Regions from separate parts of the Homo sapiens genome. Here region 1 is linked to region 2. A link means that fine-mapping ties the variant in region 2 to the expression of a gene that starts in the linked region. Tissue or cell type: whole blood. Region 2 holds a variant in brackets; the other region holds the start of a gene. All regions are shown on one strand. Distances are between the middles of the regions.

Evidence for each region. PIP is the estimated chance that this variant, and not a neighbour inherited with it, causes the effect.
Region 1: it holds the start of ICA1L, and the variant in region 2 is fine-mapped to the expression of ICA1L in whole blood (INTERVAL, PIP 0.95).

Annotation. Positions count from the first base shown.
Region 1 is chr2:202,867,371-202,875,463 of GRCh38, forward strand. It overlaps ICA1L (islet cell autoantigen 1 like), which reads right to left and starts at 4,396. Exons shown (of 13, transcript NM_001288622.3): 1 at 4,249-4,396. WDR12 (WD repeat domain 12) reads right to left here. Exons shown (of 13, transcript NM_018256.4): 13 at 6,891-8,093. RefSeq lists silencers at 3,939-4,428, 4,469-4,518, 4,579-4,708.
Region 2 is chr2:203,045,656-203,053,763 of GRCh38, forward strand. It overlaps NBEAL1 (neurobeachin like 1), which reads left to right. Exons shown (of 56, transcript NM_001378026.1): 4 at 4,159-4,320. LOC124900525 (small nucleolar RNA SNORA1) reads right to left here and starts at 6,763; the gene lies at 6,630-6,763. The variant G/A (reference allele first, on the strand shown) is at 3,654.

The DNA.
Region 1 (8,093 bases), 180 kb before region 2:
CTACCACATACCTAGGAGCTATTGCTCCCAGGCTACAAACCTGTACAGCATGTTACTGTACTGAATACTGTAGGCAACTGCAACACAATGATGGTAAGTATTTGTGTATCTAAACATGTCTAACCACTGAAACGGTACAATAAAAATATGCTATTACAATCTTATGTGACTATTATTATATCTGTGGTCCATCATTGACCAAAACACCTTTATGCAGTATATGACTGTATACTAATGGCCATTAAGCACATAAAAATATATTCAACATTATTCATCAGGGAAACAAAAATTAAAACCACAAAGAGATATCAGCACACCCCCATTTGATCTTGCTAACAACCAATCTGTCAATTCAAAGTGCTGGCAACAATGAGGAACAACTGGAACCTTCATACATTGGTCGTGGGAATATAAAATGGGTATAACCACTTCAGAAAAAATTGAGTTTCTTGGAAACGCACACAATCCAGCAATTGTATTCTTATGTATTTACCTAAGATAAATGAAAAATATGCCCAAAGACCTGTAAATGTTCTTGCCAGCTTTATTCAAAATGGCCAAAAATTAGAATATCTATTAACAGGTGAATAAACAAATTATAGTATACTGCGCAATGGAATACCACTCAGCAACAGAAAAACTACAAACCAAGTAATTAATGAGTAAGGGGTGTTTTTATGGGGTGATGAAAAAGTTTTCAAACTAGAGAGAACTGGTGATCTCACAACATTGTGAAAACAATAAATATCACTGAATTGTACACTTCGAAACGGTTGTTTGGGTTTGTTTAGCCAAAGTAAAAAAAGAAAAAAAAAGGCTAATTGTATATTATCTGAATTTCCCCTCAAAAACAAAAAAAAACTTTTGATAAAAGAGCAGGAATGAATTCTCAACCCACAATGATATACCAATACACATCCATGGTAATAGCTTAAATGACAAAGACTGACAACACCAAAATTGGTGAGAATGTGAGTAACTGGAACTCATATATTGCTGATGAAAGCATTAGATAGTATAACCATTTTGGAAAATGATTAGCAGTTTCTCATAAAACTAAACATGCTGCTACTTCATGACCTAGCAATTCCACCGCTAGGTATTTAAAGCTTTATGTGGGCAGAGATTTTCATCTGTTTGTGAGCAAACAGTGCAAGACACACAGTAGATACTCAATAAGTATTTACCAAATGAATGTCTACTTATTTTAGCATTGTAATAAAAAACTAGAAACAATCTAAGTATATTAATAAAAAGCTATACAGATAAAAATGTAGTATATTCATATGACAGAATACTATATAAAACAATTAAGGCCGGGCGCGGTGGCTCACGCCTGTAATCCCAGCAATTTGGGAGGCTGAGGCTGGTGGATCACCTGAGGTCAGGAGTTCGAGACCAGCCTGAACAATATGGTAAAACCCCCATCTCTACTAAAAATAAGAAAATTAGCTGGGCGTGATGGCATGTGCTTGTAGTCCCAGCTACTTGGGAGGCTGAGACAGAAGAATCGCTTGAACCCAGGAGGCAGAGGTTGCAGTGAGCTGAGATCGCGCCACTGCACTCCAGTCTGGGTGACAGAGCAAGACTCTGTCTCAAAACAACAACAACAACAACAACAACAACAAAAAACATTTAAAACAAATACATCAGTGGCTAAAACTATCAATATCAATCCAAATCAATTTTTAAAATAATACTGAGTGAGGCCAGGCGTGGTGGCTCACGCCTGTAATCCCAGTACTTTGGGAGGCTGAGGCGGGCGGATCACGAGGTCAGGAGATCGAGACCATCCTGGCTAACAGGTGAAACCCCGACTCTACTAAAAATACAAAAAATCAGCCAGGCGTGGTGGCGGGCGCCTGTAGTCCCAGCTACTCCGGAGGCTGAGGCAGGAGAATGGCGTGAACCCGGGAGGCGGAGCTTGCAGTGAGCCGAGATCCTGCCACTGCACTCAGCCTGGGCGACAGAGCGAGACTCTGTCTCAAAAAAATAAAATAAGAAATAAAATAAAATAAAATAACACTGAGTGAAAAACACAAGTGCAGGCTATATGCAATATGATGTAACTTATTTAAAATTTAAAAACACATGCAATAATAGACATGTATAAAATATAATTTAAAAAACACAAAACACAGATACCAACTCATGATGTTGAGTACCTGATAACGGATGGGTGGGATGAGACTTCAGCTTTATTGGAAATGTTTTATTTCCTTATCTAAAAAAATACTAGAAAGAAATACAACAAAATGTTAACAGTTGTTAATGTCGGCCTCTGTAAATATAGATATTGTGTTACTTTAGTCTTTTTTTTAATCTCAACTAAATTAAAAAAGGAATTTTAGTCTTTTTTTATCTCAACTAAATTAAAAAAGGAATTTTAAAACCCTAGTGTTACATGCAAGTGAGTCAATAATGGCAAAATAATAATGAGATACATAGAAGGTGACTAAATTTTAATGGTGAATACTGGATCCAAGTACAAGTTTGAAAATTTTGATTTCCGAAAAAAACACAAAACTTAAGTGATGAATGAAAAATAGACAAAATGGAAGAGGGTAATAAGAATATTATTAAATAACAAAATCTACTTCGAACGAGGAAATCTTTCCAGTTACAGATATATTTAAAACTCACATATCCCATCTGTTGTTGTTAAAGAATATAAAAAGAATAAAATTTTAAAGGAAGCGCAGTGAGTACTGAAAAAGCTAAAGTATAAAAGTACAGAAAAAATGTAAATATAGAATCACACAATGAAATCACCAAGTTTGGCAGTATAGTAGAACAAGACAGTATATTATCTATTTTGTATCTAATATTTTGATATCTGGTCCTAGTTCCATAACTGGTATAAACTTTGTTTTATATTTTTATGATATTTATAATAAAAATATGGCATCCTACTTTTTCCACCAGTTCTCATATTTGCAATTTTTCCTCTTTGGACTGGCTGATCTCTGAGCACCCTTCTAACTCTAAAATTAAACTGGTAATTAGAACACTGCCTTCCACATAGCTGTTTCAACGACTAGATAAACAATCATTTTGAACTATTAAATAAAGAGATTTCAAAGAATACTGGGTATGATAGGCACAGATAACAAATACTAAACGATTTAAAATTTTGGTCACATAAAAATACATACATACCATTCGGAGATGTTTACTCGGCCAGTAAATGTATAATTAACTCCTACTAAAGGATGAGGCACCTGTGGCTATTCCATAAATACTGATGTGAAGATGATTAAAGTAATATCGTCTTACAGTACGTCGCCTGAGTCAGAACCAAATAAATCAATACATAAATACTTTTGGGAAAAATCAAAACCATGGAAAAATGTTACCTTCCCAACAATCTATTTTACAGAGACCCATAGTTTATAACAGCTTTTATGCTGTGTGCATCAAGATCATCTATTACACGAAAAATGATTCCACCCCCTCTACTGGCAACGCCCCAGCATCGCGGGTGAGCTGCCAGGATGGACTCCCCGCTTTCCCCTCTCCGTCTTCCTTAGAGCATCAGGTATCTGACCACTGACATCACCTGGGCACCTGACCAGCTGACGCGCGTTTCCAGGAGCCATATCTGTGCCGTGGGGTCGGGTTGCCGGCCTAAGGAGCAGGATCTGTGCGCGGAGCCCCTCGCGGGCCCGTGCATTCTGCAGTTCAGCTCAAACTGCACATTTACTATGTTTTGTTTTTATCCATCGGTTGCCAATTAGTTTCTAAGGAAGACATTCCCATTACAAAATAATAGCGAAATAAAAATAAGCACCACGTTAAAAAGAGGTCAGCAGGGAAGCACCTGAAGGCTGTTCGGGTGATCCGCCGCCGCCTCTATTAGGAGCGACCTCCACCGCCGAGGGAAATCACCCAAACGAGCCCCAGGCTGCCGCGCTCCTTCACTACAGCGAGCGTGGCCGGGAGGCGCCCTTCCGCCGCAGGGGACCCAGCCACGCCAGAAACCGCTCCTTGCGGGTTTTGCCTGGGGGGAGGCCGGAAGAACCCCGAGCAGGGCCTCGCCTGGAAGAAGGCCGCAGGCAGCGGCCGGGGTCCCCCAGAGAACCGAGGAGGCCAGCAAGGCCCCGAGAAGCCGCGCGCGCGCGCGTGTGGCCGGAGCCTCCCGCCGCGCCCCCGCCTCCCGGCGTCGCCATGGGAACCCGGGATTTGGTCTCCGGGCCTGACCGCCGCCTGAGGGGGAATAGGGGCGGACAGGAGGCAGCAGAAGCTTACCGGCGCCGCTCTTCCGCCTCCTCGGGTCGCGTTCGGCCGTACGGTGATCCGTCCCGGCACCCGTTCCGGCCACCGCCCGCGAGCCCCGCGCCGACTCCCGGCCCTCCGGCAGCCAGTGCCCCTCCGCACCAGTGCGTGGAGGTGTCAGGCTCCCGCTGCGGGAGGCGGGAGATTTAAACCGCGCGACCTGGCGTCCGCGTTCGCCCCCCTCGGGCGCCGGCCTGACCCCGCCACCGGCCCGACTCGGGATCGGAGCATCTCTCGGTCTGCTCTTGAATGAACTCGGGGACCCTCTCTATTCCTCCTTTCCCGATTTCCTCTTTACTTAATAAAGTGAAATGACAAACACCAAACCGGTCAGAACATTACGAGGAGCTGAGTGTGAGCTCTCTGAGGCGTGGGGAAGTGGAAGGCATTGGCCCGGGGCCCTCCCGGCTCCCTCCGAGCACCCCCACCCCCGGACCTGCCGGGCCTTCTGGGGCGGCCCCTTAGCACCAGTGCTCCTTAGGCGGAAAGCGTTCGCCCGCTGTATTTAACTCCCGTGTTAAAGGTTTAAAGAGGTCTAAGTTAACAACCGTTCATAACCAATCTCAAATGCACATATCCATATCCATAATGTTTATGATGAATCTTCAAGAGTAAAAGGTAAAACCGGATCCTGAAAGTCTCAGGAAAAAAACAAAAAGGAAGGCAAAACTATTTACTACTAGTAGGAGATAATTTAATAAATTCAAACTTCATTCTTTTTAAAGGTGACTCCAAAACTTAAAAGAACTTTCCTAAAACAGCAGAATACGAATTATTAATTACAACTGCGACACATAGGCTAGCAAAGAATTAAAAGGTTAACACTCGAGGTGATAATTAAAATCTGTATGATGACAAAGATGGGGTGAGTCTAGAATTTATTTTATTTTATTTTATTTGAGACGGAGTCTCGCTCTGTCGCCCAGGCCGGAGTACAGTGGCGCGATCTCGGCTCACTGCAAGCTCCGCCTCCCGGGTTCACGCCATTCTCCTGCCTCAGCCTCCCGAATAGCTGGGACTACAGGCGCCTGCCACCACGCCTGGCTAAGTTTTTTGTATTTTTAGTAGAGTCGGGGTTTCACCGTGTTAGCCAGGATGGTCTCGATCTCCTGACCTCGTGATCCGCCCGCCTCGGCCTCCCAAAGTGCTGAGATTACAGGCATGAGCCACCGCGCCCGGCCGAGGTTCTGGAATATTAACAGTACAAAATACTCACCTTAACCTGGAAATTATACTTTTAGAATAGGAAAAGTGGCAAGCTACAGAGGGTTAATTTGGACTGAAAACATTAAATGTCTTTAGACTTTTACCCTGAGATATTTGGATTTCAAGGAATAGGCAAATACCTGAGATTATGTGCAAAATTTTGTTTGTTTTTTTGAGGAGTCTACAGCTTTCCTCAGAAGGGTAAAAATTAGCGTTTGGCAAACATGAGTGATTGACCTATTTCCTTGGGATGGCTTTCCTGAATCTTACCAAATGAGGCATTTCTCCTAAGGGGCATACTGCTCTCTGGCTGTAACGATCTACCTGCCTGTCTTCCCCATTAGGTGCCGAGCTGCTTCAAAGCTGCTCCTCCCTTACGCATTTCTGCAGCCTTAGCACCTAGCACAGTGCCTAATACAAACTAGGTCCTGAATGAATGTTGAATCCATCAATGAACGAAATGAAACAAAGATAGCTAATTCACAACTGAAGGATACATTATAAAATATCTGAAAAGAACAGATTATCTTTCTCACCAAGGAATAAATAAAGTGGCAAGCGAAATGACTTTCAAATGTTACTATGCCCCATAGTAAAGTTCTTGGGGTATTTTAGAAAATGTTTGTTCCAACAAGATGAAGTTTTAAGTCAAGAGAACAGTAAACTAATATCTTCTTCAGCTCAATCTGAGGCCGACTAAAGTCCTCCAAGGAACACACCTGGAAGTCAGAATAATGGCTACCGGCCGGGCCTGTTGCTTTTATTCACTTAACTGGGTAAAATTACAGAAAGATACACAGTATCTCCAAGCCATTAATGAAGTGTAGTATTTACACTTCATATAATCACTTTTTCTTCACAAGTCGCTAAGGAAACACGGTGGCACAGTGTAGGAATAGTATCAGAAAATAATGTAGAGCTAGCTGCTGATGCTTCTCCTGGACAGGAGTCAAGTCTCTCATATTTCATAAATGCCTGTGGAATGAATTCTTTCTTTAGCTGTTGGATACAATGTTTAAATGGCTTGCACTAGGAAGAGCGTGGTAGTTCAAGCCTATAATCCCAGCACTTTGGGAGACTGAGGCAAGCGGAGCACTTGTGGTCAGGAGTTTGAGAACAGCCTGGCCAACATGGTGAAACCCTGTTTCTACTAAAAATTCAAAAATTAGCCCCATGTGGTGGCGTGCACCTGTAATCCCAGCTACTTGGGAGGCTGAGGCACGACAATCACTTGAACCCAGGAGGCAGAAGTTGCAAGCCGGGATTGTGCCACTAAACTCCAGCCTGGGCGACAGAGCAAGACTCTACTTGCACTAGTCTCTTAACAAAAGGAGGCAGCTCAGTCATTACATTTTAGTGTTGCATAAAACCTCTTTAGAAAGTGAAATAATTTAACACCTTTAAAGTACTTTTAAATTTCATTTAGAAGTACATTTACTGAACTGTTATTTAACTTTCTATCCTTTCTATCAACATATAATACACTTATACTAAGGGGAAAAAAGGGGTTTTCCTCCATTGTATAGACTTTTACAAGCTAACTAGACAAGAACATTAGATGACTTGGAATGTAGGGCTCCACAAATGGGATCCAAACCTAGAGTCTTAGTTTCTTTAAAGACTAATGGTCTTCACTTTTGTTTTTGTGCAAACCTCTGGTTAATCTCCCAAATAAAACCTCAGTTGATATTAGAAAACACTAAAAATTATTCTACTGTTTTGTACTGTTTTACTAAGGATTAGAGGTCTATTGAATCTGACATCACACAAAAAGCTCTATTTCTTCAAGGCATTCCAGTTTCTTTGTAATCTGTTGGATTTTACCGAAGACGTCAGGAGAAGCATTATAGGTCAGTGACAGTGGGGCCATGGAGAGCTATCTTCCCAGATACCCAAATGAGTAATTAGATACTGCAAGCTAAACATTCTGTCTCTTCCCTACTACATTTCTGTTTATTCAAGCAAAGCTAGAAACAGTATTAGAATTAGACACAATTCTAGAATTAGAATTATTATGATGATTTTAAATGTGAAGTGTTATCGACATCGTTTTAAAAATTATTTCCTCCCCCTGAAACCACTGAACTTCATCTGGTATTAAGTCTCAGCCATGTTATTACACTTTCACCAACTATACATAGAATTGTTTGACATGTTTCTAAACTTTGTATCAGATAGTACCTAACAAGATACTTTCTCTGTAGTCTTTATTACTCAGATGTATGTCGCACAGCTCCATTAATTGGTTACATACCTTCACACTAGGTACTTAACCTGTCTGCATTGTGGTTTCCTTTAAATAACATGAATGACATAATTACATGAATAATAGGATAATTTCTAAAATTCATTTTTGCTTATATACAATTCCTATTAGAATATACAGAAATTGATCTTTATACATTTATATACTATTACAGTAATACGTTTAGTGGCACGCTAAAATTGAAATTAATTTTAAAGGCAAAAAAATGCAAAGCTGAACATATTATTGTAATTTAGTACCCACAAATGTCACTTAAATTTATGTATTACTTTTTTTTTTTTTTTTTTTGAGACGGAGTTTCGCTCTTGTTGCCCAGGATGGAGTGCAATGGCGCGATCTTGGCTCA
Region 2 (8,108 bases):
ACTGTATTCTACATGTGACTACTTATGTGCTTCAGATTTTTCTGCATATAGTTAATTAAACAGCCTTTTACTCAGTGTAAAAATACTAGCAATACTTCATATTAAGCATAAGCTGAAGAAGAGGTAACTATAAAGTATAATTGTCATTTAATCATAGGCATGCTTTAGGGAGCTCCATTCAGATTTGGGCATTTTTCTTAAAGGGATAGGAAATTAGTATACAGTGGCTTATGAAAAGATTCTGAAGCTTTAGTGATAGCATGTTTAAAATATATTACATTTTTATAGATCTTTCTATATTTCACAGCTGAAAATGCATATTAACCTTCTGGTTTGAGACCCCTGTAAAATAGGGCAGTTGATACTCAAATTTTATAGGTTGGGCACAATGGCTCAAGCCTATAATCCCAGCCCTTTGGGAGGCCAAGGTGGGAGGCTAGCTTAAGGCCAGGAATTAGAGACCAGCCTGGACAATATAGCAAGACCCTATCTCTTAAAAAAAATTGCAGATTACAGAACTAGAAACTTTTTTTTTTTAAGGAACAACAGTAGATATTTATTTATTTATTTATTTATTTGAGACAGAGTCTCACTCTGTTGCCCAGGCGGGAGTGCAGTGGCCCGATCTTGGCTCACTGCAACCTCTGCCTCCCGGGTTCACGCCATTCTCCTGCCTCAGCCTCTCGAGTAGCCAGGACTACAGGCACCCGCCACCACGCTCGGCTAATTTTTTTTGTATTTTTAGTAGACATGGGGTTTCACCGTGTTAGCCAAGATGGTCTCCATCTCCTGACCTCAGGTGATCCACCCGCCTCGGCCTCCCAAAGTACTGGGACTACAGGCATGAGCCACCGCACCCGGCCAAGAACAACAGTAGATATTTACTGTTCACCGTTCTGGAAGCTGGGAAGTCTAAGATTAAGACACCAGCAGATTTGGTGTCTGGTGAGGGCCTGTCTTCTGTTTCTTGCTGTGTCCTTACACAGCAGAGGGATGAATACTGTGTCCTCACACAGAGGAAGGGGCAGGGCAACTCCCTTCACTCTGTTTATAAAGACAGTAATCCCATCCATGAGGGCAGAGCCTTCTTGGCTTAATCACTTCCTAAATGCCTCACCTCTTCATACTATTGCATTGGGAGTTAGTTTACAACATATGAAATTTGGGGGAATACCAGCATTCAGACCACAGCAGTTCACATTGAAAGCTCTACCATTCCTTAAAAAGTAGACATATAGGTCGGATGCAGTGGCTTCTGCCTGTAATGCCAGCACTTTGGGAGGCCGAGGCGGGCAGATCATCTGAGGTCGGGATTTCGAGACCTGCCTGACCAACATGGAGAAACCCCGTCTCTACTACAAATACAAAATTAGTGGGCGTGGTGGCAAGGCTGACCAACATGGAGAAAACCCGTCTCTACTAAAAATACAAAATTAGCGGGCGTGGTGGCACATGCCTGTAATCCCAGCTACTCAGAAGACTGAGGCAGCAGAATCGCTTGAATGCGGGAGGCCAAGGTTGCAGTGAGCTGAGATTGCGCCATTGCACCTCCAGCCTGGGCAACAAGAGCGAAACTCCATCTCAAAAAAAAAAAAACAAACACATACAAGTAGACATGTAGTTGCCTGTAGAAGTATTGGCAACCACCTGTCATGTACTGGCAACCTACATGAGAATGGGTATTTTTTCATTCATGTTTAAAATTTTATTTTGTATCTGTTTTATTAAAATATTAACAGAATATTAAATATTGATAGAACATACTACTTGTATGATAACTTCCATTTTTTAGATGAACTCTAAGATGTTGGCCCCTTCAGTTGTGTTTCTACTGTCCTTCTCCTTAGGTCAATGTCTTCAGGTCTTCCACAAGTCTTTTGGACTTGCCAGGATATTTCCTATCTCTCATTTCCCTGGAAATATTAACCTCTCTCTGCAGGTCCCTCTGCTGTAATGCCTTCTGTGGCAGCACAGGAATTGTCTACCCATTCAGGTTAGGAGCAATTTTTAAGTATGGTGTAAAAATCTCTTTGAACACTCTATAATAGTGAGAGAAGTTGCAGTCACAATTTTCTATTTCTTTCTATTTTTTTTTTTTTTTTTTTTGAGAGATGGTCTTTCTGTCTCAACCAGGCTGAAGTGCAGTGGCATGATCATAGCTCACTGCAACCTCGAACTCTTGGGCTCAAGCGATCCTCCTGCCTTAGCCTCCAAGTAGCTGGGACCACAGACATATACCACTATACCTGGTTAATTTTTTTTTTTCCAGTGGAGATGAAGTCTTGCTATGTTGCCCAGCCAATTTTCTATTTCTTAGCTGATTTGGCATAGGTTTCAACCAGGTATAGACCTCAGGCCAGAAACAGGTTTATAAGAAATACTGCATTTTTTTCATTATCTGTGACTCAACATGCCTTGATTCTAAGCCCACATCTTTCAGGCTGGTAAGATATCCATGCTTTGAGCTGGGCACGGTGGCTTACTTTGGAGGGCCAAGGTGGGTGGATCACGAGGTCAGGAGATTGAGACCATCCTGGCCAACATGGTGAAACCCCGTCTCTACGAAAAATACAAAAATTAGGTGGGTGTGGTGGCACGTGCCTGTAATCCCAGCTACTCGGGAGCCTGAGGCATGAGAATCCCTTGAATCTAGGAGGCGGAGGTTGCAGTGAGCTGAGATCGCGCCACTGCACTCCAGCCTGGCAACACAGCGAGACTCCATCTCAAAAAAAAAAAAAAAAAAAATCCATGCTTTGTTATGCCTTGGATTTTCTGCCATCCCCAGAGATGATAGGGTTTTATTTAAGCCACTGATTTTTGATGGGGAGGGAGGGAGGTATTCTCTGGTTTTGGTTGTGTGACCACAGGAGTGACCTTCCATACATCTCTTGTGCTCATCTGCGTAGCCCACTTAAAACCATCTCCTCTCGGAACACAGATTTATTATTTCATGAGGTTGGGTACTTCAGCGTCCATAGGGAACTTCAAAGGTTAAATGATCAGCTCTATGTTACAGAGGTGAGATTTAGTACCCATGTCTTTAGACGTTGAATCCAGGTATGGGTTTTTATTATGAAAGAAACACCAGAGGAACCACTCATGTCTGATGTTGGCATTTGCCCTTAAAGAACCATATAGTCTTACATAGAAACCATTTGTCACAAAATGTTGATATATTACTTTTTAAAGTCTTCTGTTGATGCCCATGCTCAGAGCTCTACATTTCCTTTTTTTTTTTTTTTAATACCCTTTTATCTCTCTTCTTTCCTTTTACTGGTTATCTTTTCTCCCTCTTCTGATCACATGGCTTGGGGAGTCTATACTAAAACAATGATGTTTAGTAAAGCAGTTGACAAATTTTTTTTTTTTGAGACAGAGTCTCACTCTGTCACCCAGGCTGGAGTACAGTGGCACAATCTTGGCTCACTGCAACCTCTGCCTCCCGGGTTCAAGCGATTCTTCTGCCTCAGCCTCCTGAGTAGCTGGGACGAATTTATAAATGTGGGAAATGTGATAACCTATAGGATAATTACACTTCATTTGGTAAAATGATACAATGAAACCAGCTAATTTTTTGTATTTTTAGTAGAGATGGGGTTCACCATGTTGACCAGGCTGGTCTCGAGCTCCTAACCTCGTGATCCACCCACCTC[G/A]GCCTCCAAAAGTGCTGGGATTACAGGCGTGAGCCACTGCACCTGGCCAACAGTTGACATATTAAACTAGTTATGTAGATACTTCATTTTTACTTTACAGTTATTGTTTCTTTTAGAAATGGTATGCACACTGCTATACACAGTATTTAGTATACATAGTATTTTTAAGTGGAACATAATTTATTCTAAGTATTTTCATTAAAAATAGTACAATTGAAGATATCAAATAGTCTGTCTCTCTCTTTAGTAAGCCTCTTCTGAAATAAGAAAAACCACTCTGCTCTAATAATCTTCTAGTTACTAATCTTCTAGTTACTTCTAGTTACTAATCTAGTTACTAATCATCATGTGCTACATCTGTGTTGCAGACGAGAAGGCACAGAGTATCTGGAATAAATAAAAGAGCTTCTTTAGGATTTGGGCTGAAAATGAAGTTCATTTAAATGCCAGAGATTTTCTTCTTGTATTTCAACAGGCTTCTTATTTTTTTCCCTTTCTGTTGTAGGGTAGATGATATGCCTCCAGGAATATCTCTGCTTCCTGATAATATTCTGCAGGTTCTGAGGATCCAGCTTCTACAGTGTGTTCAGAAAATGGCAGATGGGTTAGAGGAACAACAGCAAGCCTTGTCAATTTTGCTTGTCAAGTTCTTCATTATTCTTTGCAGGTATCTAGTAGAAAAAATAAGCTAGTTTTCACTCATAGGTGGGAGTTGAACAATGAGAACACATGGAGATGAGGAGGGGAACATCACACACTGGGCCTATTGGTGGGTAGGGTGCTAGGAGAGGGATAACATTAGGAGAAATACCTAATGTAGATGATGGGTTGAAGGATGCAGCAAACCACTATGGCATGTGTATACCTATGTAACAAACCTGCACATTCTGCATACATATCCCAGAACTTTAATAAATTAAGTAAATAAAAAAGAAAAAAAGAAAAAATAAGCTAATTATCTGTTTTAATATAATTGTTACATTACCAAAATAATAATTAATTTTGTTTATTATTAGTGATGTTTGTAGTTGATATGGAGCTTTAAAGAGTAAGTGCACTTTTTGGAATAGGCTTGTGGTTTGTTAGTATGTTGGAAATCCTTTTAGTTACTATACCTAGTTATAGCAACATTAGCCAACATTTAAAAAAATTATATTAAAGTCAATGACAGTTTTTCTTCAGCAAGAAATTACTGTACCAGTATTTTTCATATGGTTCTCACCTGTAAATGTATATGCATTTTTATTACTCTGTGTTATTATCTGTGAAAATAAATCATTCAGATATTTCATTTTATTATTTTATCAAATAAAGTATAATTATCCTGTAGGTTATCATATTTCCCACATTTATAAATTAGGTCTGTGGTGCTTACATTTTGGTATGCATGAATAACAACAAGGAAACTTAGTAGAATATAGAGCTTGAGCCTTGCTTATGGAAATTCTGTTTCAAAAGGGCTCAAAATCTGGATTTTTCAGGCATTCCACATTCATCTACATGTAAGAATTCAAGAACCATTAGTTTAGGGGCACTGCATATAAGAATTCAAGAACCATTGGTTTAGGGGCATCTGCATATAAGAATTCAAGAACCATTGGTTTATTGGTTCATATTCCTCTTGAAACCTATCTTCATTTCGGAAGCTACATTCTATAGCTTTAAATCTATTTTCTTTTTGGAAGCCACTTTCTAAAACATACATTATTTGTTTTATAAATATTTTATAATTAATTAGTGGATGAATAGGGACTTAATTTACCTCTTAGTCACCTTTGGCTTAATTTCTCATTGCCTTTGCAGGAATTATGGAATGATTGATCAATAATTGCTAAAACATTTCACCCCTAATTTATGCTCTCCCAGAGCCTTAGACATGTTTTTATTTGTGTGTTTTTCCTCATCCTTAAAATTTGGAAAAATAATACAAGAATTATAAGGGTTGAAGTATGCAGCCAGGTACAGTTGCTCACACCTGTAATCCCAGCACTTTGGAAGGCCGAGGAGGTGGATCGCTTGAGGTCAGGAGTTTGAGACCAGCTTGGCCAACATGGTGAAACCCTGTCTCTCCAAAAAAATGTAAAAATTAGCCAGGCATGGTGGCGGGTGCCTGAAATCCCAGCTACTCAGGAGGCTGAGAGGCAGGAAAATTGCTTGAACCTGGGAGGCGGAGGTTTCAGTGTGCCGAGATCATGCCATTGCACTTCAGCCTGGGTGACGGAGCGAGACTCTTCTCAAAAAAAAAAAAAAGGTTAAAGGGAAAGGGTTTATTCAGGTAGTAAGACATAAGTTGACCTCTGATAATTTGCTATATTTTCCTGCTAGCTACCTACTACAATTTTGCTGAAATCAAAAATCCTACAGATATTTGTTTTCAATTCATTATGTTTAGATTTTGGTAATAGAGGGAAGCACTGAAATGCTCAACAAATTTTTTGGTTGAAAAAAAATTTTTTGGGTAGTAGATAGTTTCTTATGATAAATTTAATGTTCAATAGCTACCAGTCACAGAACATGTTTCTATTTCCAGAGACCTCACTTTACTTTTTTAAAGCTCCATTTAAAAACTTTAATAAACTTTATGTTTTAGAGCTGTTTTTATATAAATCTAGAATTCCCACATACTCCTTTCCCATACCCCTCAGTTTCCTCTATTACTAATATCTTACATTAGTATGATACATTTATTACAGCTGATGAACCAGTATTTATACATTATTAACTAAGGTCCATGTGCACATTAGGGTTCACTATTTGTGTTGTATAGTTTCATGGGTTTTGACTAATTTATGTTGTCATATATAAATTTGACATAATCATCATTATAGGATCATATAGAATAGTTTTCCTACACTAAAAATGGCCTGTGCTCCACCTATTCATTCCTTACACACCCACACACACACACCCCATACCCCTGCCCGCCCCAACCTCTGTCAACCACTGATTTTTTTTTTTTTTAATCATAAGCATACCAAATGTTACAGGTTTCATTGTCACCACTGCAATATGTGTACTGTGATGGAAGCATAGCCTGTGTCTCAATTTAGCCACATAAAGTTTTTTGGACACCATGATCAGCAGTACCCATTCTCATCTAGAATGAGGCTTAACCACTGATATTTTAATGGTGTCTTTAGTTTTGCTTTCACCAGGGTGTCATAATTAGAATCATACAGAATGTAGCCTTTTCAGACTGGCTTCCTTCACTTAGCAGTATGCATTTAAGGGTCCTCCATGACTTTTCTTGTTTGTTTGTTTGTTTGTTAGACAAGGTCTTACTCTGTCACCCATGCTGGAGTGCAGCTGCTTGATAAGGGCTCATTGCATCCTTGACCTCCTGGGCTCAATTTATCTTTCCACCTTAGCCTCTGAGTAGCTGAGACTACAGGTACATGCCACCATGCCCAGTTATTTATTTATTTATTTATTTATTTATTTATTTATTTGTATTTTTTGTAGAGAAGGGGTTTCGCCATGTTGCTCAAGCTGGTCTCAAACTCCAGGGCTCAAGTGATCCTTCCGCCTTGACCTCCCAAGGTGCTGGGACTATAGGCATGAACCACCGCACCTGGTCCTCCTCCATGTGTTTGTAGCTTGATAGCCCATTTCTTTTGTCACAGAATAATACTCTACTTATGGACATACCACAGTTTGTTTATTCATTCCCCTGTTGCAGGACATCTTGGTTACTTCCAGTTTTTGGAAGTTATGAATAAAGCTGCTAAAAACATCTGTGTGCAGATTTTGCATACACATAAGTTTTCAACTCATTTAGGTAAATGCTGAAGAGTATAATTGCTGTATCATACGGTAAGCTTATGTTTAGCTTTGTCAGTGCAAAATTGTCTACCAAAATGGCTATACCATTTTGCATTCCCACCAACAATGAATGAGAGTTCCTGTTGCTCTTCATGGTTTCCAATACTGGATTATACTATTCTTTTATATTTTAGCCATTTTAATAGGTGTTTGTAGTATCTTATTGTTTTAATTTGCAATTCCCTAATGACAAAAGATGTTCACCATCTTTTCATATGGCTATATACCATTTGTATCTTCTTTGGTGAAGTGTCTATTTAGATCTTTTGCTCATTTTTAAAAATTGAATTGTTTTCTTATTAAGTTTTAAGACATCTTTGACTGTTTTGAGATGTAATTCCTTTATCAGGTATCTGGGTTTTTTTTGTCGTCGTCGTTGTTGTTGTTGTTTTGAGACAGGGTTTTACTCTGTTGCCCAGGTGCAGTGAGTTCTGTTGCCTGAGGTGCGGTGGCATGATCACAGCTCACTGCAGCCTCAAGTTATCCTCCTTCTTCAGTTCCCCCCACCCCAAGTAAGTGGGACCGCAGGTACATGCCACCATGCTTGGCTGATTTTTTTTAATTTTTTGTAGAGATGAGGTCTCACTATATTGCCCAGGCTGGTCTCTAACTCCTGGGCTCAAGCGATCCTCC